5 separate regions of the Homo sapiens genome follow, and regions 2, 3, 4 and 5 are each reported to be linked to region 1. Evidence: microRNA targets listed by miRTarBase, many of them from high-throughput screens and not tested one by one. Region 1 holds a microRNA gene; each other region holds the end of a gene's coding sequence.
What was found. Region 1 holds the annotated microRNA hsa-miR-6773-5p (UUGGGCCCAGGAGUAAACAGGAU, at 1,307-1,329, shown strand). A microRNA usually pairs through its seed, bases 2 to 8, with sites in the 3' UTR of a target mRNA and lowers its output. Matches are read on the target gene's strand: a 7mer-m8 pairs with bases 2 to 8, a 7mer-A1 pairs with bases 2 to 7 and ends in A, and an 8mer does both.

Region 2: miRTarBase lists TMEM86A as a target of hsa-miR-6773-5p. Seed matches in the 3' UTR shown: 7mer-m8 at 713-719.
Region 3: the mRNA of ADAMTS13 is a reported target of hsa-miR-6773-5p. The part of its 3' UTR that is shown has no 7-base or 8-base seed match.
Region 4: the mRNA of MTFMT is a reported target of hsa-miR-6773-5p. Seed matches in the 3' UTR shown: 8mer at 1,917-1,924.
Region 5: the mRNA of BRMS1L is a reported target of hsa-miR-6773-5p. The part of its 3' UTR that is shown has no 7-base or 8-base seed match.

The regions. Positions count from the first base shown.
Region 1 is chr16:68,230,684-68,234,800 of GRCh38, reverse strand. MIR6773 (microRNA 6773) reads left to right here and starts at 1,302; the gene lies at 1,302-1,375. ESRP2 (epithelial splicing regulatory protein 2) reads left to right here. Exons shown (of 15, transcript NM_024939.3): 3 at 694-807; 4 at 919-1,033; 5 at 1,376-1,474; 6 at 1,986-2,040; 7 at 2,114-2,224; 8 at 2,298-2,430; 9 at 2,513-2,555; 10 at 2,698-2,999; 11 at 3,107-3,319; 12 at 3,425-3,623; 13 at 3,774-3,960.
Region 2 is chr11:18,701,338-18,705,454 of GRCh38, forward strand. TMEM86A (transmembrane protein 86A) reads left to right here. Exons shown (of 3, transcript NM_153347.3): 3 at 236-3,448. The coding sequence ends at 672. It overlaps IGSF22 (immunoglobulin superfamily member 22), which reads right to left. Exons shown (of 23, transcript NM_173588.4): 23 at 2,975-3,201. The coding sequence ends at 3,131. Among named protein-coding and RNA genes, the nearest start is that of IGSF22-AS1, 3.1 kb to the right of the region's middle.
Region 3 is chr9:133,458,803-133,462,919 of GRCh38, forward strand. ADAMTS13 (ADAM metallopeptidase with thrombospondin type 1 motif 13) reads left to right here. Exons shown (of 29, transcript NM_139027.6): 29 at 172-584. The coding sequence ends at 378. It overlaps CACFD1 (calcium channel flower domain containing 1), which reads left to right and starts at 1,176. Exons shown (of 5, transcript NM_017586.5): 1 at 1,176-1,385. The coding sequence starts at 1,265. RefSeq lists silencers at 772-991, 1,002-1,101, 1,392-1,691 and an enhancer at 3,634-4,117.
Region 4 is chr15:64,999,451-65,003,567 of GRCh38, reverse strand. MTFMT (mitochondrial methionyl-tRNA formyltransferase) reads left to right here. Exons shown (of 9, transcript NM_139242.4): 9 at 312-2,056. The coding sequence ends at 506. Among named protein-coding and RNA genes, the nearest start is that of SPG21, 12 kb to the right of the region's middle.
Region 5 is chr14:35,869,618-35,873,734 of GRCh38, reverse strand. It overlaps BRMS1L (BRMS1 like transcriptional repressor), which reads right to left. Exons shown (of 10, transcript NM_032352.4): 10 at 1,772-3,375. The coding sequence ends at 3,258. Among named protein-coding and RNA genes, the nearest start is that of BRMS1L, 45 kb to the right of the region's middle.

The sequences.
Region 1 (4,117 bases):
CTGTCAGCCCCAAGTTGTAAAGTGTCACAGAATTGGCAGGGAGGGTTCGTGGGTCACTGATTAGTGTTTATACTTCTCCAGCAAGGATGGAGGCTGGGGGAGGGCTGGGCAGCCTCAGGAGTGCCACCCCCTCTATGAGCAAACAGCTCAGTGCCAGCCGGTCAATAGGATGTGGGTCAAAGCTCATGCTGCCCCTGATGTCCAAGTGTGGAGCTCTGTCCTTGGAGTTTCTCTGCCCCTCGGTTGGTCAGACCTGGAGGCGGGGCTGCCATTGACCATGAGCCTTCTGGGCCTCAGGCAGGCCTGGGCCTCCCCCACCTGTCTGAGGGTGGTACCCGGTCAAAGACAGGTTTAACCTGCTTTGCCCCGCCCCTTCCCACCTGCTTGTCCCACTCCAGGTGTTTGCTCTGGCCCCACTCCAAACTCCTGGAGTGTGTGTGTTGAGGGCTTCGGTTATATGTGATTGCCCTCATTTGGCCTGGAGGAGGTGACAGTGGACTGGAACAGGGTTGGGGGGTGAGGGGAAGGGACATAGGGCTAGGCTCAACAGGCGTGGCCTCTTATTCCCAGGCAGGATAGGGCTGAACATCTGGCTGAACCAGCTTTGCAGCCTGCCTCCTTCCTCCTACCCTCACTTCCTGCCTGCCCAGCTGTGAATCTGTGTGTTTCTCTCTCCCCATTCCCTATCCCCAGTTCTCACAGCTGGTGAACGGGGATGTGGCTTTGCTGGGCGGGGGCCCCTACATGCTCTGCACTGATGGGCAGCAGCTATTGCGACAGGTCCTGCACCCCGAGGCCTCCAGGAAGGTATGCTCCTGAAGGAAAACCGGGTGGGGTGGGGTGGTCAGTAAGGTTCCCAGAACCCCTCTTGTCCTGAGGGTGGGCAGGGCGCTCATCCTCAATCCTATGTGCCCCCAGAACCTGGTGCTCCCCGACATGTTCTTCTCCTTCTATGACCTCCGAAGAGAATTCCATATGCAGCATCCAAGCACCTGCCCTGCCAGGGACCTCACTGTGGCCACCATGGCACAGGGTATCTGTGACCCAGCAGGGTTAGGGTGGAGAAGCCACTGTGGGTACATGTGTCTGAGTATGTGCATGCTGTGGGTGGGTAATATGGACACATACAAGACTGCGTTATCTGCTAAGTCCCTGAGTGTACTGTGTCTTCGTGTCTGTGCTAGGATGAGTTTGGAATGTGGGTATGTGTCTGTCTATGTCTGGACTGGGAATCTGTATGTGCACACATGAACTGGGCCAAAACAAATGTGTATGCTGGTCTCCAGCATGTGTCTATGGAGGGGAGTTGGGCCCAGGAGTAAACAGGATTAGTGCTTATGCTAAGATGTCTTCACTGTCACTTCTCTGCCCATAGGTTTAGGACTGGAGACAGATGCCACAGAGGATGACTTTGGGGTCTGGGAAGTCAAGACAATGGTAGCTGTTATCCTCCATCTACTCAAAGAGCCCAGCAGTAAGGTTTCCCTCACTGCCTGTCACCTGTTCTCAGGGATGACAAATGCCTATTGCTCCTCCCCACTGTGACCTTCTCTAAGAGACCACGGGGGAATCCTCTTTGTCATTTCTTTTTTTTTTTTTTTTTTGAGACAGTCTCCCTCTGTAGCCTAGGCTAGAGTGCAGTGGCACAATCTCAGCTCACTGCAACCTCCACTTTCCGGGTTCAAGCGATTCTCCTGTCTAAGCCTCCAGAGTAGCTGGGATTATAGGCGCCTGCCACCATGCCCACCTAATTTTTGTATTTTTAGTAGAGATGGGGTTTCACCATGTTGGCCAGGCTGGTCTGGAACTCCTGACCTCAAATGATCCACCCACCTTGGCCTCCCAAAGTGCTGGGATTATAGGCGTGAGCCACTGTGCTCGGCCTGTCATTTCTTCATCTCTCTCAATTGTCCACTTTTTGCAGAACTTGGTGGGGACACCCCTCTCCACCAGACCCTGCTGACCCCCAGGCCATCTTTTCTCAGGTCAATTGTTTTCGAAGCCCGAGGTGATAAAGCAGAAATACGAGACGGGGCCTTGGTGAGTGTGGGAGCAGGGGCTGGGGGTGACAACAGCTGAATAGCTCTGACAGCACTGTGCCCTGCCCCTACAGCAGCAAGGCTGATGTGGTGGACAGTGAGACTGTGGTACGGGCTCGTGGGTTGCCGTGGCAGTCATCAGACCAGGACGTGGCTCGCTTCTTCAAAGGGCTCAACGTGGCCAGGTGGGTGTGGCAGGGTGGGTGGGCCCAATTGGACAGGCCTACCCAGGAGGCACTAACAGCACTGGCTCCACAGGGGTGGTGTAGCACTCTGCCTCAACGCCCAGGGCCGCAGAAATGGCGAGGCCCTCATCCGCTTTGTGGACAGCGAGCAGCGGGACCTAGCGCTGCAGAGACACAAGCACCACATGGGCGTCCGCTATATTGAGGTGGGGCTTTGGGCTGGGAGCGGAGCAGGGCCAATCTGAGTCAGGCCTGAGACCCATGGGCTGCTGCTCTCTGTACCCACAGGTGTATAAAGCGACAGGGGAGGAGTTTGTAAAGATTGCAGGGGGTGAGTATACTGCAAACAGGGCCTGGCTCCCCTGGTTCTTGATCCATTTCACTTCCCCACCACCCCTTGCCTGCCTGCTCCCCTGCATGGGTGAGTGTCTGGAGGAGCATGAGTGAAGTCAGCAGGCGACTCTCATACACAGGCACATCACTAGAGGTGGCTCGTTTCTTGTCACGGGAAGACCAAGTGATCCTGCGGCTGCGGGGACTGCCCTTCTCGGCTGGGCCAACGGACGTGCTTGGCTTCCTGGGGCCAGAGTGCCCAGTGACTGGGGGTACCGAGGGGCTGCTCTTTGTGCGCCATCCTGATGGCCGGCCGACTGGTGATGCCTTCGCCCTCTTTGCTTGTGAGGAGCTGGCACAGGCTGCACTGCGCAGGCACAAGGGCATGCTGGGTAAGCGATACATTGAACTCTTCCGGAGCACTGCAGCCGAAGTGCAGCAGGTGAGCGCCCAGGGCTCCCCACCCCCAGATGTACTGTTACTCCAGGGCGGCCCTCTGTGTCCCTGCCCTACTTGGCATGACCAGCCTGTTGCTGCCTTCCTTACTAGGTCTTGAACCGCTATGCATCCGGCCCACTCCTTCCTACACTGACTGCCCCACTGCTGCCCATCCCCTTCCCACTGGCACCTGGGACTGGGAGGGACTGTGTACGCCTCCGAGGCCTGCCCTACACGGCCACCATTGAAGACATCCTGAGCTTTCTGGGGGAGGCAGCAGCTGACATTCGGCCCCACGGTGTACACATGGTGCTCAACCAGCAGGTGAAGCCACTGCTTGGTAGGGGGAACACATAAATAGGAAGGGGTGTGTGTTAGGGGTAAGGCACTCTTACACATGACAAACTGCTCACAAGATGGTGTGCACAGGGCCGGCCATCGGGCGATGCCTTCATTCAGATGACATCAGCAGAGCGAGCCCTAGCTGCTGCTCAGCGTTGCCATAAGAAGGTGATGAAGGAGCGCTACGTGGAGGTGGTCCCCTGTTCCACAGAGGAGATGAGCCGAGTGCTGATGGGGGGCACCTTGGGCCGCAGTGGCATGTCCCCTCCACCCTGCAAGCTGCCCTGTGAGTGCCCTAGGGGCTAGGGGAGGAGGAGGCCTGTGGTAGCCAGGCTGTTGTAAGCCCCTACCTTCTATAGCGGGGACTCCTTTCTGGCTACCCCACCCAGGGCAGTGCTGGGCTCCGTGCACATGCACTTTCTACTTCCGTCTCTAGGCCTCTCACCACCTACCTACACCACCTTCCAAGCCACCCCAACGCTCATTCCCACGGAGACGGCAGCTCTATACCCCTCTTCAGCACTGCTCCCAGCTGCCAGGGTGCCTGCTGCCCCCACCCCTGTTGCCTACTATCCAGGGCCAGCCACTCAACTCTACCTGAACTACACAGCCTACTACCCAAGGTACCCTGCAGCTAAGAGAATATCACAGTCCCACTCCCTGTCCCAATCTGGGGAAAGGTCACGATCCCCTTTCTGGACCAGATAACTCCTCCCTTGAGATGACAAGGGAGTAAGGTGGCAGCTGGCTAATGCCATCTACAAAACAGATCGAAAATGA
Region 2 (4,117 bases), not on the chromosome of region 1:
AGGGTCCTTGTTAGGGGATGACCTCGCAGGGGAACTAGTGATCAGTTCCAGAGTCCTTCAGGGGACTGGGGTGGTGGTCTTTAACTTTAGATCTTCCTACCCCTGTTATCCCAAAGCAAAGCTGCTGGGTTATCCCAAACACTCCACTCCATCGCCACATCCATCCCTACCCCCACCCTGTTACTCATTCTTCATCAAGCTTGCCCTCAGCTGCCTTTGCCCCTCTTACCCCCAGGTCTGCTGATGTTTGCTGTGACCCACATGTTCTACGCCTCGGCCTTTGGCATGCAGCCACTGGCTCTTCGGACAGGTCTGGTGATGGCAGCGCTGTCGGGCCTGTGCTATGCCCTCCTCTACCCATGCCTCTCAGGTGCCTTCACCTACCTGGTGGGGGTCTATGTGGCCCTTATCGGCTTCATGGGCTGGCGAGCTATGGCAGGGCTGCGGCTGGCCGGGGCAGACTGGCGCTGGACAGAGCTGGCAGCTGGCAGTGGTGCACTCTTCTTTATCATCTCAGACCTGACCATCGCCCTCAACAAATTCTGTTTTCCTGTGCCCTACTCTCGGGCGCTTATCATGTCCACCTACTATGTGGCCCAGATGCTCGTCGCCTTGTCAGCTGTCGAAAGCCGGGAGCCTGTGGAACACTACAGACTGACCAAGGCCAACTGAGGTGCCAGGGTCTGGTCACCCCTCTCTCCTCCTGGGGCTGGGGCCCAGATCCTGGGGACCTGCAGGAGCTGGATCAGGATGGCTGCAGTGCCAGCCTGGGGCAGCAGGTACTGCCTGAGGAATTTGCAAGTTCGTGTGGGGAGGCTGGAAAAGGATCTCCCTAGCAGAACTCGTGGTTCAGGACAATGCTGAGAGCTAAAAGAGCCAGCCTAATATCAGACTGGAGCCAGAAGTAGACATCTCCCCACCTCTACCCTATCAGGACTTTCAAAACCCCCCTGGAAGGTGATGGTGCTCAGCTTCTTGACACCCCCCCACCCACTTCCCCTACCAGGTGGAAGAGTCTGACTCCATGTGTTATGCCTAGGACCAATGGCAGTGCTGGGTTCACCCACTCCTCCCCTTTTTCATCTGCACAAAGTTGAGGGAAACGGGAGAATCTGTGCTGAGAAGACTCAGACCCAGGAGCCCCTTTCACAGGCCCCTAGTTGGGAAGACTGGATGAGAGTGGAGCCTCCGTTTCTTTTCCCTCTTCTATCCTTGTTACTTGAACAATCTCAGTCTCTAAGTGGTGGGTGGGGACATGAAGAGGTGTGGGTCCAGGTTAGGCAGGAGAGAGAACTTCTTTGGTCTCGGAGTTTGGGGTCTCAAGAATTCAAGTAGCCCCATCTCTCTCTCGGGCAAGCCCAAAGCTCAGGTCCCATACGCTACCCTTAGATCCTATCCCCAGGGCTAGGGTGAACCATGCCAAAGGAAGGGGCCAGCTTCTCTGTGTGTGTGTGTAGCCTGTCTCCTAGTCTGCCTATGTCTTTCTCTGCTATATGTTTCTGTCCTGCTGTCTGTCAAAAGTCTCACAGAGAGAGGGCCTCAGGGAGCTGCTGAGGGGTGCTGAGCCTGGCTCAGGGAGCTGGGACCCCTCCCCTCCAACACACATACTCACAGTGCTTTCCTCCTTGTCCCTCCTACACTAGGAGCAAGAGGAGGGGGCTCCAATGACACTCCGGGGTTTTAAGACCCAAGGCACATTCAATGCAAGGGGAGCAAGGATGGGACAACTCCATCTTCTGCTGCCCATGTGAAAAATAATAAAAATCAAGAGCCATTGGCTGCCCTGCTTGTGGGCCTGTGTGGCACATGCCTATCTTGGAGAGGGCATGGGGGCATGGTGCCAGAGGCTCTGGCTGTCCTCACAGCCTAGTCACAGTCCTGGGCAGTGCATCTTGGTGCCAGGCTGGCTACCTGGCTCTGGTGACACTGTGCCGGTTGGAGTGTGTCTCACTTCCCTGGTGTGGGTGAGGATGTGGTTTAGGAGGATGGGGGATGAGTGGTATTTGCCACTGTCCAAATTTGTCCTTGATGTACTCCCCTGTGCACAGGTGCCCAGCACCCTTGGTGACCTTTAGTTACCCAGTGTCATCTATTGCTGCCCACCTCCTCCCCTCCCCACTTGAGACCTGCTGCTTCCTTCAAAATGATCCAGATTCCCTTCAAGCATCTCCCTCATCCTGGACTCTGGGCTTAGTTGAACAGCTGGGAGCAATGGGATTAGATTGGCTGATTCATTCATTAGTTGTAAAGCCCTGGCAGAATAATACATCACTCTGCTCCAGGAGCATTTGTAACTTAACAGACAATGCCCTAACCCAGAAGTAGAAAGGGAAGCCTTGGGTGGTGGTGGATATGCCATCAGTAGAGGTGTTGCTCATTTGTGGGGATGTGATTTAGGAGACTCAAGTCTCAGGGGTGGTTGGATGAGTCAGTGATTTCCAAATTAGTTTTTACAGAGATTCCTGGTAAGGGGGTAGTGAAGGAATAATGAGAGAAGGCAGGCTCAAAGACCTCCTATCCTTATTTCAAGTCCAGTAGCTTCTTAGGTTGTGTTTTTTTTTGTTTTGTTTTGTTTTGGAAGGATTCCACTGAAAAACGTAAGTTTGAAACTTAGTGAGCTGGATGATCAATCCCTTCTAGCTCTGAACCCTGGACACTAAAGAGGGAAGATCTTGATCCTTTCAAACTTCAGAACTCTGAACACAGACCTACCTAGTGTGAAGAAATGGGAGGGAGCAGGATGGAGAGCAGGATGAAGTCAGCAGGACTTGCCCCCAAGCTCTGAGGGGAGGGGGAAAGTGCCATGTAGATGTGGAGGAGGGGAAGGGAAGACCAGGCCCAGTCACAAGAAGGCTGGTCACTGCCTTGTGGGTGGGTTTGGACTAGGCTTTCAGGGGTCCAGGTCTGGGATTCCCTATCATGCAATCACATCCATCCCCTTGGTCCCTGCTGTATATCACCCTCAGGAACGGGAAAGGATGAGTTACGTTTATTGCCCCATCCCTTCACTGAATGTTTACATTAACAAACACCAGAGAGCAAACTGGGCTTCCTACACTGGGCCATGCAGAGGACAGGCCAAGAAACTCCACATCATAACAGCCTCCTGATGCCTGGGCTTGGCTGGAGCTCACATGAGGTGCTTTGATTTCTTCTGCAGACTCTCGGTGATGGATGCTACAACTGACTTATCATCTTTGTCTGAAAGAGCAAAGGAAGTATTCGTTATATTAATGATGCTGGCGACCAGGGAAATTCCAAACTGCTGGACTTCCTATGCAGGAAACCAGGAGCTGGACCCTGGGACCCTTAATCTTGGGTTGGCAGAGTGTGAAGGGGCAAGAGCTGCCATTTATCTAGCACTTAATATTTGCCAGACATTGTGCCAGGCAGTTGTGTACTGTCTCATTTAAGCCTCATAGTCCTATAAAGAAGATGAGAAAACAGGCTCAATGAGGTAGCTTACTAAGGTCACATGGCTGGTCAGTGGCAGAGCCAGGGCCCTGGGCCCATTTGCTGTGCTTACAAGCAGATTTGAGTTATCAGGGATCTCTTTAGCTGTGGAATGAAAGCTGGATAGCACCCACAGTGCCTTCCCTGGCCTAGTTCTTTTACACAGCTCAGCAGCCTCTCTGGAGATATTGTCTCAGTGCCAGACACTTAGCTAAGCACTCGAGAGACAGAGCAACAGGACAAGGTCCTTTCCCCAAAGAAAGGTATCTATAACTGGATAAAAAAGGTCTGTAACCATGGAGACCACAGCAATGGAGTGTCATGGAAGGTTCAGGAGTAGCAGAAGGTGAGATGAGAGGTGGGGGAGGGGGAAACCTTCTTGGTTTGGGATTTTACCATGAGAGGAAAGCTGGGGGAAATTTAAGCAACAGAAAGCAAGGCAGGCCAGCTTTGCATTTAGAGTTCATGCTGCTAGCTGTGTGGCTATGAAGACAGTAGACTGGGAAGGAATAAAATGCTTCCCCCTATGTGTGCACACATGAGTAGAAACATGGCATGCATGTACAAAAGGGAGGGTTCCCTTCGCTCCTTCCCTTGTTTGTGCCCCCCACCGGTCCTTATCCTAGACCAGTTTTAATTTTTATTGCACATCAGAATCACCCGC
Region 3 (4,117 bases), not on the chromosome of region 1:
ATGTAACGTCCCTGGACCTCGGTTTTCTGGGTAGAGTAATGGCGTATTCCTAGTAGGGCTTTGTAAGCATTAAATGTGATCCGGAATCTGTGAGCCCTTGCACACGAAGGCTTCCGTGAGTGCTAATTATTACTTGTGGCCGGTCCTTCTGGGCTGCCCCTTTTCTCTCAGATCCGGGACACCCACAGCTTGAGGACCACAGCGTTCCATGGGCAGCAGGTGCTCTACTGGGAGTCAGAGAGCAGCCAGGCTGAGATGGAGTTCAGCGAGGGCTTCCTGAAGGCTCAGGCCAGCCTGCGGGGCCAGTACTGGACCCTCCAATCATGGGTACCGGAGATGCAGGACCCTCAGTCCTGGAAGGGAAAGGAAGGAACCTGAGGGTCATTGAACATTTGTTCCGTGTCTGGCCAGCCCTGGAGGGTTGACCCCTGGTCTCAGTGCTTTCCAATTCGAACTTTTTCCAATCTTAGGTATCTACTTTAGAGTCTTCTCCAATGTCCAAAAGGCTAGGGGGTTGGAGGTGGGGACTCTGGAAAAGCAGCCCCCATTTCCTCGGGTACCAATAAATAAAACATGCAGGCTGACCGGCGTTTTTTTCTTATAAGCTGTCCAGACCTGGCTTGAAAACCCATCCCATGGCAAGGCAGGGATTCGCTGGCCGCGGTTGGCTCTATCTTGATCTGAGCAAGCCGCTGGACGTCCCTAGTTATCTTCTTCCTATCCAGGAAGAAAATCCAATCAGGATTCCACTCCGAGGATGGCGCATTAGCCAGCTCCCTGCGAAGCCCCACCCGTGTGTCCTGGTGTGAGGCTCTGACCGCTAAGGTGTCTGCGCGCCTCCAGGCCCCGCCCCCTATGCTAATAAGCGCCCGCCTCCTTTGGGAGCAAGTCGCCGCAAACTGCGAGCCCCCGCCCCCTACGCTAATGACGCCCGCCCCCCTCGGGCACACCTCTCCGATGCCTGCGAGCCCCGCCCCGTATGCTAACGAGCTCCCCACCCCCAGCTCCTCGCCGCAGCCTGCGGGTCCCGCCCCCTACAATAATGAGCACCTACCTCCCCTCAAACGCCCCTAGTCGCGGCATGAGGGTCCCGCTCACTATGTTAATGAGCACCCGCCTCCCTTCGGGCGCGCCTCGCCGCAGCCTGAAAGCCCCGCCCCCTATGCTAATATGCTCCCTCTCCCACAAGGCAGCGCGCCGGCTCGGACGCGGCCGGCTACCGAGCCCTTTGTGAGGGCTGTGAGCTGCGCCTGACGGTGGCACCATGAGCAGCTCAGGTGGGGCGCCCGGGGCGTCCGCCAGCTCTGCGCCGCCCGCGCAGGAAGAGGGCATGACGTGGTGGTACCGCTGGCTGTGTCGCCTGTCTGGGGTGCTGGGGGCAGTCTGTGAGTATCCAGTCGGGGAGAGGGGCCGGCCCCGCCGCGCATGCGCTCCTCGCCCTGCCCTGCCCCGCCCCGCCCCGGCGGCCCCAGGGGAAAGGACCCGCTGGGGGTCGGGGGTCTGCCGGGCGCCTCCCGGGGCGGAGGAATGGCGGGGCCGCCGGGAGCCGGCGTCCTGGGGTTGCCATGGTTACCCGCTCGGGCCTGGGCGCCTTGGTACCCCGGGCTGGGCTGGGCTGGCGCTTCTGGGAACATTCCCGGAGGGACCAGAAACCCCAGGGCGGGGGGGCGGCGGGGGCGGGGGTGGGGCACCGGCCTGGGGCACGTGACTGAGCCCTCCCCCCGCTCCCCAGGGGCTTTTGTGAGACTTTCTCGGTGATGCTCACGGGGCGCATGCCCACCTGGCCCGTACTAAAGCGTCAACTGTTGACTTGGGCGTAGGTGACGGCAGCCACATTGCTAACCTTTGGGCAAGGATTGTTTGTAAGGGAGGCGGGTGCACGGCTGGCTAGATTTCTGGCAGGAAGCCACTGGGCGGAAGTTTGCTGAGGGTCAGGTGGTGTCAGGGCACAGGTGGCCCCTGGGGCCGCGGGGCAGTGAGCTGAGGGCCCGGCCTCTCCCTGGGTCCTCTGTCCGCTCTCATATCTCCCCCGTTGCTGCTGCCTTAGCCGCCTGTCACCGGCCTTCCTCCCCTTCTCCGCACGCATCCCAGTCACAGACCCTGACCTTAGGCTGCCAGGGAAGCTAGGCTCTTAAGCACAGCCAGAAAAGGACAAAGAGGGAGGCAGGTCAGCTCCAGGAGTGAATGGAAGCCGTACAGCTGGCCTTCCAGGGAAAGACAAGTCTGTCTGAGTGATACCCTTTCCTTTCCTGTCTGCCCTCAATCTTGTGGATTACTGGAGTGGGCAAGGTCTTAGAGAATGTCTGTCGAGGATGTCTGCAGGTTTTAAACAGTGCCTGCCTGGCAGAGAGGGCTAGCTCTGGGCCTGGGCAGGGCAGGCCCCATCAGCAATCCTGCCAGAAGGACCACCTTTTCAGGGTCACCTTGGGTTCCACAGCCTTTCCAGGTGGGTAGAGGGTGGAGGGAGGTTGAGGCAGGAGGGTGCTGGGCTAGGAGTGTGCTGCCCTCGCTAGGCATGCCCTTATCCAGAGGCAACGGATACGGTAGGGCAGGCCCTACCCCCAAATCACAAAAAGGCCCCGAGTTTGTGTCACTGCTCTTCAGGGCAAGTACGCTTTTGACTTTGTAGGAGAGACTGGTGGGTTTGAAGTTAGGCATTGGATCCAGTCCTGTCATGTCTGGTTAGCTGTTTTCCCTGCAGATTAGGGTGGGCAGTGCAGTGGGGTGACATGGTCAGTGGTGAGAAAGGAAAGGTCCTGACTATGGCCTGTAGGCCACACCTCCTTCCTTCTTGGTCAGTGGCCCTGCCGACTCCCAGATTTGCTGTGGAGTCTTACTCAGTTCTGTGCCTCTCAAAGTGAGGTACCTCTGCCTTTCCTGGGAGTTCCTGGGGCTCTGTTGGGTCTACAGATGAAGCTTCAGGAGAAACTTGTGGCATTGCCCTGAGTTGTCAGTTGCATCTGCAGATTTTTGGGGGCATGGTTATGTGAACATCAAAATGCTGTATTACAGGGTAGAATGCAAAAATGCAGGGTGTTTTAGAGATGCGGCAGGAGTTCAGACAAGGGTTGTGTGCCGGGCTGGTCCTTGGGTAAGGTTTTCCTCCTCCAGGGTGAGGGGATCAGAGAGAGTACCTGGAGAGGGTCTACCCTGGGTCCTAAGAGCATCTGGAGGTGATACCTTGGGAGGGGACAGGATTGCATGGTGACAGCCCCCTCACGTGGAAGATATCAGCATTGAGGCCCCCAAGTGGACATCCTCCAGCCCTTTATTGCTAAAGGATTCCTGGCTGGAGCCTGCTGGTCTGGCTTGACACCTGGTCCTCCCCCAAGGCTGGCTGTGGGTTGGACAGCTGGGGTAGGGTTGGAGCTGGAGGCCAAATGCTGACTGCAGCAGGAAGCACAGCCGAGCTGTCAGGTGAGGCCAGGCACAGCAGAGAGGCAGGGAGCCGTGTCACCCTTTGGGCACTCTGCTAGGACAGGCAGGCCCCTGTGTACCTGTGGTTCTGGAACACCTTGCTGTCTGAAGGCAGATGTCTAAGGCTGTGCTGAGGAGCAGTGCAACGCTTGAGTCCTTTGTTTTAGAAGGAGACCCTGGGGGCCCATGAAGCAGTCCCATTGCAGTTCGGCTCACTTTATCTGGCTTCTTTGCCTGCTGTCTGCATAAGGTTACCTGGGAAAATGGAAAACAGCAGAATTCCAGACCCAGGTGGAGGGATCAGGTGCAGAGGAGCTGCTGCAAGTTTAATGAGCTGGGTGCTAATTGCTGCCTCCAAGGCCCCCCTCAGTGATGGCCTGGGCTTGCTCCCTGCCCAGCAGCCACCTCCTTGGACCTGCCTTGAAGGCTCCTGGAGTTCCTGGTGAAGCCAGGCTGCAGGCTGTGGGTGGAGGAGGGAGTTGGGTGCAAGAGACCCTGCTGGTGAGGTGCAGCTGGGAGGCGGGGCGTCAAGGCTGCACATCTGAGCATCAGAGAAGCCACGTTCTGGGGTGGAAAACGATGCCCCCTCCCCTTCCTGGCCTTATGGCATTTCAGCGGTGGGTGGCTGGGCTGTGGGACTTGCTCATGTGCAAGAGGAGAAACGGGTCTAGGAAGATGAAGATAGCGTGCCAGTGGCACA
Region 4 (4,117 bases), not on the chromosome of region 1:
GTATTTCATGTTACATACCTTTTATTCTGCTCCCTTTGTATTTAAATATTTATACAGATCTATACATTTGTTATCGCTCCTTGGTAATAAGCTTTTAATTTCAGTGTCAAAAACCGCAATGACTTTTGCACCAACCTAATAGAGTCAAGGAATTCTACATGTTACTTAGTGTAGTGCTGTTTGCAGCTAGGCATTTAGTAAAGATTTGTTGGTTTGTTTGTTTCCATGATAAAAATTTTATAAACTAATATTTACTTGGCTTTTTAGTTTTGCCACCCCTGCCTATTCACTATTTGTATTTTGCCCTTTAGGATGGTTGGATTGGTGTTCGATCAGTGATGCTCAAGAAATCACTAACAGCTACTGACTTCTACAATGGATATTTGCACCCCTGGTACCAGAAAAATTCCCAAGCTCAACCAAGCCAATGCAGATTTCAGACTCTCAGACTTCCAACAAAGAAGAAGCAGAAAAAAACTGTTGCTATGCAACAATGCATTGAGTAGTTAGGAAGAAGATGGATAAAAACCTATTACATATTTGTAATTTATTAAAAACCTTATTTACAAGGAATTATCTGGACTTTTTTTTTTTTTTTTTTTTTTGAGACAGAGTCTCACTCTGTCACCCAGGCTGGAATCCAGTGGCACTATCTCAGCTCACTGCAACCTCCGCCTCCCAGGTTCAAGCAATTCTCCTGCCTCAGCCTCCTGAGTAGCTGGGATTACAGGCACACGCCACCACACGCAGCTAATTTTTGTATTTTTAGTAGAGATGGGGTTTCACCATGTTGGTCAGGCTGGTCTCGAACTCCTGACCTTGTGATCTGCCCACCTCAGCCTCCCAAAGTGCTATGATTACAGACGTGAGCCACCGTGCCTGGCCTGGAATTATCTGGACTTTCAAAGAAGATGGCATTATTATAAGAAGAGAAGATTATTGCCGAAAAGATGGATTGCCTCACTTTCCACTTTTTATGTAACAGTAGTTAAAAAACAGCTTTTTTTTTACTTGAATTACAAAAAAGTTTAAATAAAACTTGTATTTATGATACGAAACTCAAGGAGATTATCTTTCCTTAAGAACAAGGGCAACCCTAACTGGTGTATGTATGTACCTACATACATACTGAGAAGAGGTTTTTTGTTTTTATTTTTATTTTTTTGAGACGGAGTCTTGTTCTGTGGCCCAGGCTGGAGTGCAGTGGCGTGATGTCAGCTCACTGCAAGCTCCACCTCCCGGGTTCACACCATTCTCCTGCCTCAGCCTCCCAAGTAGCTGGGACTACAGGCGTCCGCCACCATGCCTGGCTAATTTTTTTTTTTGTATTTTTAGTAGAGATGGGGTTTCACTGTGTTAGCCAGGATGGTCTTGATCTCCTGACCTCGTGATCCACCCGCCTTGGCCTCCCAAAGTGCTGGGATTACAGCTGTGAGCCACCGTGCCTGGCCGAGAAGAGGTTTTTTTAAAAACAGTGCATCTATTTAATTTTTTAAAAATCGTGTCACCACTGACATTTTAGGAGTATTGAATCTGCATTTTTTATTTCCTATAAGTAGTAAATCCAGCTCTTTACATTTCACTACCAGCTAGATTTAACCAAGTAGTAAACGTAGGTAATATTTAATAATCTCTGCCACATTGATCTGTACTATAAATTAACATTTTACATCCAGATTTTATTTTTTTTTATTAATTTTTTTAGAGATGGGGTCTTGCTCTCTCACACAGTCTGGAGTCCAGTGGCGTGAAACACTGCTTACTGCATCTTCAACCTCCTGGGCTTAAGTGATCCTCCAGCCTCAGCCTCCCAAAGTGGGGCCACCACGCCTGGCTAATTTTCTTTCTTAGTTTTTAAAAAAAATTTTGTAGAGATAGGGGTCTCACTATGTTGCTTAGGCTGGTCTTGAACTCCTGGGCCCAAGCAATCCTCCTGCCTTGGCCTCTCAAAGTGCTGGGATTACAAGCATGAACCACTGCACCCGGCCCAGGTTTTCTTGAAGTAGGAACGTGCTAACATTTTTCAACTTACTTGTGCAATAAAGGTTATTGAGCATCTGGTGTGTGCAAACTCATCTTCTCTGTCTCCAGGAGAGTCAGAAGGAGGAGGAGAAGGAGGCACAGTGGCCGCAGAATCCACACATTGGCTTTTCCTGCCTAGATTCTGACAGTGAAAGTCTTTCTCTATTCTTTAAGTCATTTGTTAATTCAACATTTATGGATAGGGTGATTTGGTCATCTAAGTTAGGATGCTTTTATGAGTGAAAGAAGCACTTATAATTACTCCAGGGCAACAGACATAAACCAGGACTCTCCCAGGCAAACTGGGTTGTGTGGTCATCTGATGTATTGAGCACTTACTGTGTAACTAGAACTTCAAACTGGTTACCAGAGATTCAGAGATCAAATATTTGACATCTTCAACCTACCAGGGAGACAAATGTGTAAGCGAATATAATAGTTATAAATGCCATAGTAGAGGCATAAGGGAAGCATTGTGTCCCTCACGGGTGTCAATGGAGGCTTCCCAGAGGAAGTCAATGGAATTAGCTTCCAAAGGATGAGTTTACTATGCAGACTAAGGCCTGGAAGGACATTCTAGCATGTGCAGAGGCACAGAGACTTAAAAGAACACTATAGGGTGTTTGGTAATGTTTAGGTGGGAGCATGATTGTTCTTTTATTATTCTTTAAGCCATAAATTTGTCATACATTCCCTTGTATGTATGAGCTAGTTATAGAGCTGGCTGGGAAAAAGCTAACAATGGATTATGGAAGAGAAACAAATGGCATGTTGAATACCGGGGGAAAGCCCAGCGTTTTGATGAAAAGAATTGATGAGTGGAATCTGGTGATAGAAATGAGACTGCAAAAGCAAGCTGAGGCCTGATCATGGAGGACTTTGAAAACCATGAGAGTTAGGGCCTTTGTCTCATATGCAGTAGCCTGTGAGTAGAGTGGCGTGATCAGAGTTAGATTTTGGAAATTTAACTTTGGTGGTGGTGTGGAAGATAGGTTGGGGGTAAAACCTGGGCAGGAAGATCCGTTGGAAGGTTAGAAATGTGATCTTCAGGGACATGGATGGAGCTGGAAGCCATTATCTTCAGCAAACTAATCCAGGGACAGAAAATCAAACACTGCATGTTCTTACTTATAAGTGGGTGCTGAACAATGAGAACACATGGACACATGGCGGGGGAACAACACACAGGAGCATCTTGGGAGTGGGGATGGGGATGGGGGGAGGGAGAGCATCAGGAAGAATAAGGGATGCTGGGCTTAGTACCTAGGTAATGGGATGATCTGTGCAGCAAACCACCACGGCACACATTTACCTGTGTAAAAAACCTGCACATCCTACACATGTACCCTGAATTTAAAAGTTGAGGATAAAAGAGAAAAGGAATGTGAAGATCTGAGTTACGTCAGTGGTTAGGATAAAGGGGAGATGACTGAAAAGATTTTTGTGGGTGAGGGAATTTGAGTTATTGGGTATTATATCCTTATGGAGAGTTTTAGCTCCACCACTGATGAGCTCTTTGATCTCTGACAAGTCAGTATCACTGAACTTTATTTCCTCAAGTGTGAAATTAGGCTGATGATGAAAACAAAACACTACCAAAATAATTTTGAGAATCAACAAGAGACTGTGAAAGTGCCTTGTTTTTCCAATTGTATGTATTGAACACTTAATCCCCTCCAGGCACTCTGCTCATGTTAGGGAATTGGGAGAGAACGGAAATCAGTGTCGTCTAGGAGCTCATGAGTACGATTTCTGCAGGGGATCTAAGGAAGTGCCCACTCAGACACTGCCACCAGGACTGGGGAAACCTTACTGAGGGCACAGCTTCCCGTCAGAGTTGTGACCCAGGAAAGGTTGGATTCCTCTTGCAACACCTAAGCAATATTCTGCCCCTTCCATCCCCTCAAACAGGGTAACAACCTCGACAAGGGGAATCTTGAATAGTTGAAGGAATCGCAAAGGAGATCCCTTAAACCTTCACAATTGATGAAATCAGTAATCTGTGTGTGTGAAGTTAGGCTCTTGGTTGCAAATAATAGACTTGAAACACTTTAAAGAAATGGGGATTTTAGGCCAGGCATGGTGGCTCACGTCT
Region 5 (4,117 bases), not on the chromosome of region 1:
ATGATCTCAGCTCACTGCAACCTCCGCCTCCCAGGTTCAAGCGATTCTCCTGCCTCAGCTTCCCAAGTAGCTGGAACTACAGGTGCGCGCCACCACACCCAGGTAATTTTTGTATTTTTAATAGAGACAGGGTTTCACCATGTTGGCCAGGATGGTCTCAATCTCTTGACCTTGTGATCTGCCCGCCTCAGCCTCCCAAAGTGCTGGGATTACAGGCGTTAAGACACCACGCCCGGCCTATCCTATATCCATTTTCTTATAAGAGAAATTCATTTTAGTTCAGTTTTATTGTACTGGATTTACTGGGTCCAAAAACAAAAAGAAAAAACAGATAACTTCTCCTCTAGGTGTTAAGTAGATTTTTTCCTCATCTTCTTAACTCTTATCATAACAGAAATTAAAGTGCACAAGACCATCAAAAATATGTGATTTGGTTGTACCCTAAATATGGGGCACATGTCCTCAGGACCTCCTGAGGCTATGTCATGGGAAAAAAAATGTTATATATATATATATATATATATATATATATATATATATATATACACACACACATATACAGCCAGTTGTGCTGCCATATTAAAGGTTCAATTCTTTCTACTGTTCCTGAATCTTTGGAAGTTTTTCTTCTTTTTAAATAATTATTAATGAGGCATACATGGTTCTGCAACTGGTGTTCCAAGTAATGCATACATCAGAACAACTTTTACATGAAGAAGGCTGCAAAAAAGTACTGTGTCCAGCCCACCAATATGAACAGTGAAAAAGGGGACAAATCAGGAGTGTGCCATTACTATTTGCCAATAATTATTAGTTGAAGAATTGCATTAGTGATACTTAGATAGTATCTCTTTTTAAAAAATGGGAAACAGCAAGGAGGGGATGGATTGAACATGAAAAACTAGGAGCTGTGACAATAAAGGTCAAGAAATGATCCTGAGACAGAAGCTGATCATAAACACAGGAGCAGCAGCAGCCACTACATCACATTTTGGAGTTTCTAATAATTTTCCTAAATTAAACTTTATGACCAGACAACTAATGGCAAACTGCCAATAAGACAATATATTTTATAGCATTTTAGTCATAGATAAGCATATGCTTTTATGAATCTTAATATTATGGTAGAATACTACATAAGATATAAATACTAAAGTTTTGAAAATAAATGTACTAAATCATAGTTTTAAAATAAAGATTTCCTAGGCCAGGTGTGATGGCTCATGCCTATAATCCCAGCACTTTGGGAGGCCAAGGTGTGCGGATCACCTGAGGTCAGGAGTTTGAGACCAGCCTGGCCAACATGGCAAAAACCTGTCTCTACTAAAAATATACAAATTAGCCAGGTGTGATGGTGCACACCTGTAATCCCAGCTACTCAGGAGGCTGAGGCAGGAGAATCACTTGAGCCTGGGAGGCAGATGTTGCAGTGAGCCAAGATCGTGCCACTGCACTCCAGCCTGGGTGACAGAGCAAGACTCCATCTCAAAAAATAAAAATAAAAAAATAAAGATTTTCTATTTAGAATTTCATTAACTTATACAGTACCTTTTAATCAAAGTACAACACATATGCATATATTTTAAAATTAAGTATAACTTAGCTGTCTTGAACATCTAAATATACCCCAGAAAGTGCTGAGGTTACAGGTATGAGCCACTGCACCCAGCCTACTCCATATCTATTAACGTAAACCAATTCAAATCTTTCTTACAAGTGGATAGGTTATAAAAAGAACTAAATACACATAAGTAATCCAAGACACTACAAATCACACTGAAACACATCTTTTTATTATATACTAAATTTAAAAATACAAATCTTATTAAAAATGCTTATCAAACATTGTATACATAAGTACTGTCAAATACTATTGGGTTTTGACATTATGTACATTTGCTAAGGTTAATTAGAAACAGAACAACGTAATATCACTTTGCTGACACTGAATTTCAGCAGTTAAGTGTTTTAAAATTTGGCAACTATGAAGTAGTGATCTGCACAGGAAGATGTTTGGAGAGGTAAAATAATAAGAAAACAAACGGAATAATGCAGACATTTCTGCAGTAAGTGTTAATAAGTAGATTTCTTCCTCATCCTCTTAACTCATTGTAACAGAAATTAAAGTGCACAAGACCACCAGGAATACCTGATTTGGTGTACCCTAAATATACACTACAGCCGGCTGTGCTGCCATATTGAGGGTTTCAATTCTTTGTACTGTTCCTGAGGTTTTGGAAGTTAATTTTGAATGTGGCTAGCGGAAGGGAGGCCAACACTTTCTAAATTGCACCAAATGGCCTTAAAGTGTAGAAATACCAAAGAAAAAAATATTAATTTGGAAATAGATTCAAGGAAATAATCCCTGTCTACTTTGCCCTAGGAATAAAATTAGAATAAGGACACAGTTTTACCTCTGGAAAATGCTTACTAAAATCTGTTTCAAAAGACCAGACATGTACAGCAAGCACAATACTGTCAGTTATTGTTCACCACTTATATACTGCATCATAAATACCAGGTATAAATACCTGCCGCTAAAGGGTCACTAGAAATACAGGTAGAAGCATGTTATCACTTTACACTAATTTTACTCATTAGGTATAATTTGTAAAAATAGGTCACCACCCCACCATACAATCAAGAAAGAGGAAAAGAAAAGTTGCTATTCTACAAAAGTGCTCCTTTTAGCTTTCAACCCCAATAGCTTAATTTTGGGTAAAACAAGATTGTAAGGTATGGCCATCAGTTCTAAATAAGCTGATGATGCCATATATACATCCTCATATATATATATGTTTAAATTTCAGTTCTGGTTTAACACTAATGTACTAGTACAAACCATTTATAGGAAACATTCTATCGGCCTTATTTACAAACACACAATGAATGACAAAGATATGGAAAATTTTAAAAATTGCAGATAAATGTAGTCATAGTTTACTAAAGATAAGACAAATTTGCATAACTTTTTTTAAAACCAAAGAAAAATGTTTAGAAAGAAACCCCTACCATATACAGAATACCTATTGGTCATCGGACCTAAGAGGCAAATCAACGTAAGGATCGTGATAAAATTTTTATTACTGTTTCTTTTAATAACATATCAATGAGATCTATTTAGAGTACTACCTACAAATACACATTCTCTCATGATTCAGTGAGAATATTAAGTTATTGAATACATTTTTTTACTCTCATGGCACTTACATTTGGTAACACTAATAAGGTAAATTTAGATAACACTTAAATCATGATTATGAATGTTTAATTGAATATTTTCCTTTCTGTAGCTGTGAAATGTAAAGCTTAGATTTGCTTCCATCAGGCCTCTTAAACCAAACTTCATCATGGTTAATTGTTGTAATTACAGCACTAAAAAGAAAAAAAAAAGAATGAATGAATGAATTACAATGTCTCCTCAATTCACTTTAGATTATTACCTATATAAAACCAAAATAAACTGGCCTACAACAGTAGACTCAGGTATATAATTGTCATTTACCAGAATGCTGCATATCAGCAGTACATGCTGCCAAAAATATCACATTCAGCAACACAGCAGATCATCCTTCTTTTCTTAATAGAGTTCGTAAAATTTACTTTCTATTAGAACTATTAAAAGCACATTCTTCCTACTCCATCCCCACCCCACCTCTTTAAAAAAAAAAAAAAAAACTGGAGCTAAAAGCGCTATGTATATGGTATTATACTTGTAACTCATGTCAGTATCTTTCAAATGCTAATCTCTAATTCCTAATGTCAAACCATCTACGGTACTTATACCAATTTTTTTTACACTACTAATCTTTACATAAAAAGATCTATTCTTTAAATAGATTTGTATTTTATTCTTTTTTTAATTATTTATTTTTTGTTTATTTATTTTGAGACAGAGTCTCACTCTGTCGCCGAGGCTGGAATGCAGTGGCGCAATCTCAGTTCACTGCAATCTCCACCTCCCCGGTTCAAGTGATTCTCCTGCCTCAGTCTCCCAAGTAGCTGAGACTACAAGCACGTGCCACCATGCCTGGCTAATTTTTGTATTTTTACTAGAGACGGGGTTTCACAATATTGGCCAGGCTGGTCTTGAACTCCCGACCTTGTGATCCACCCT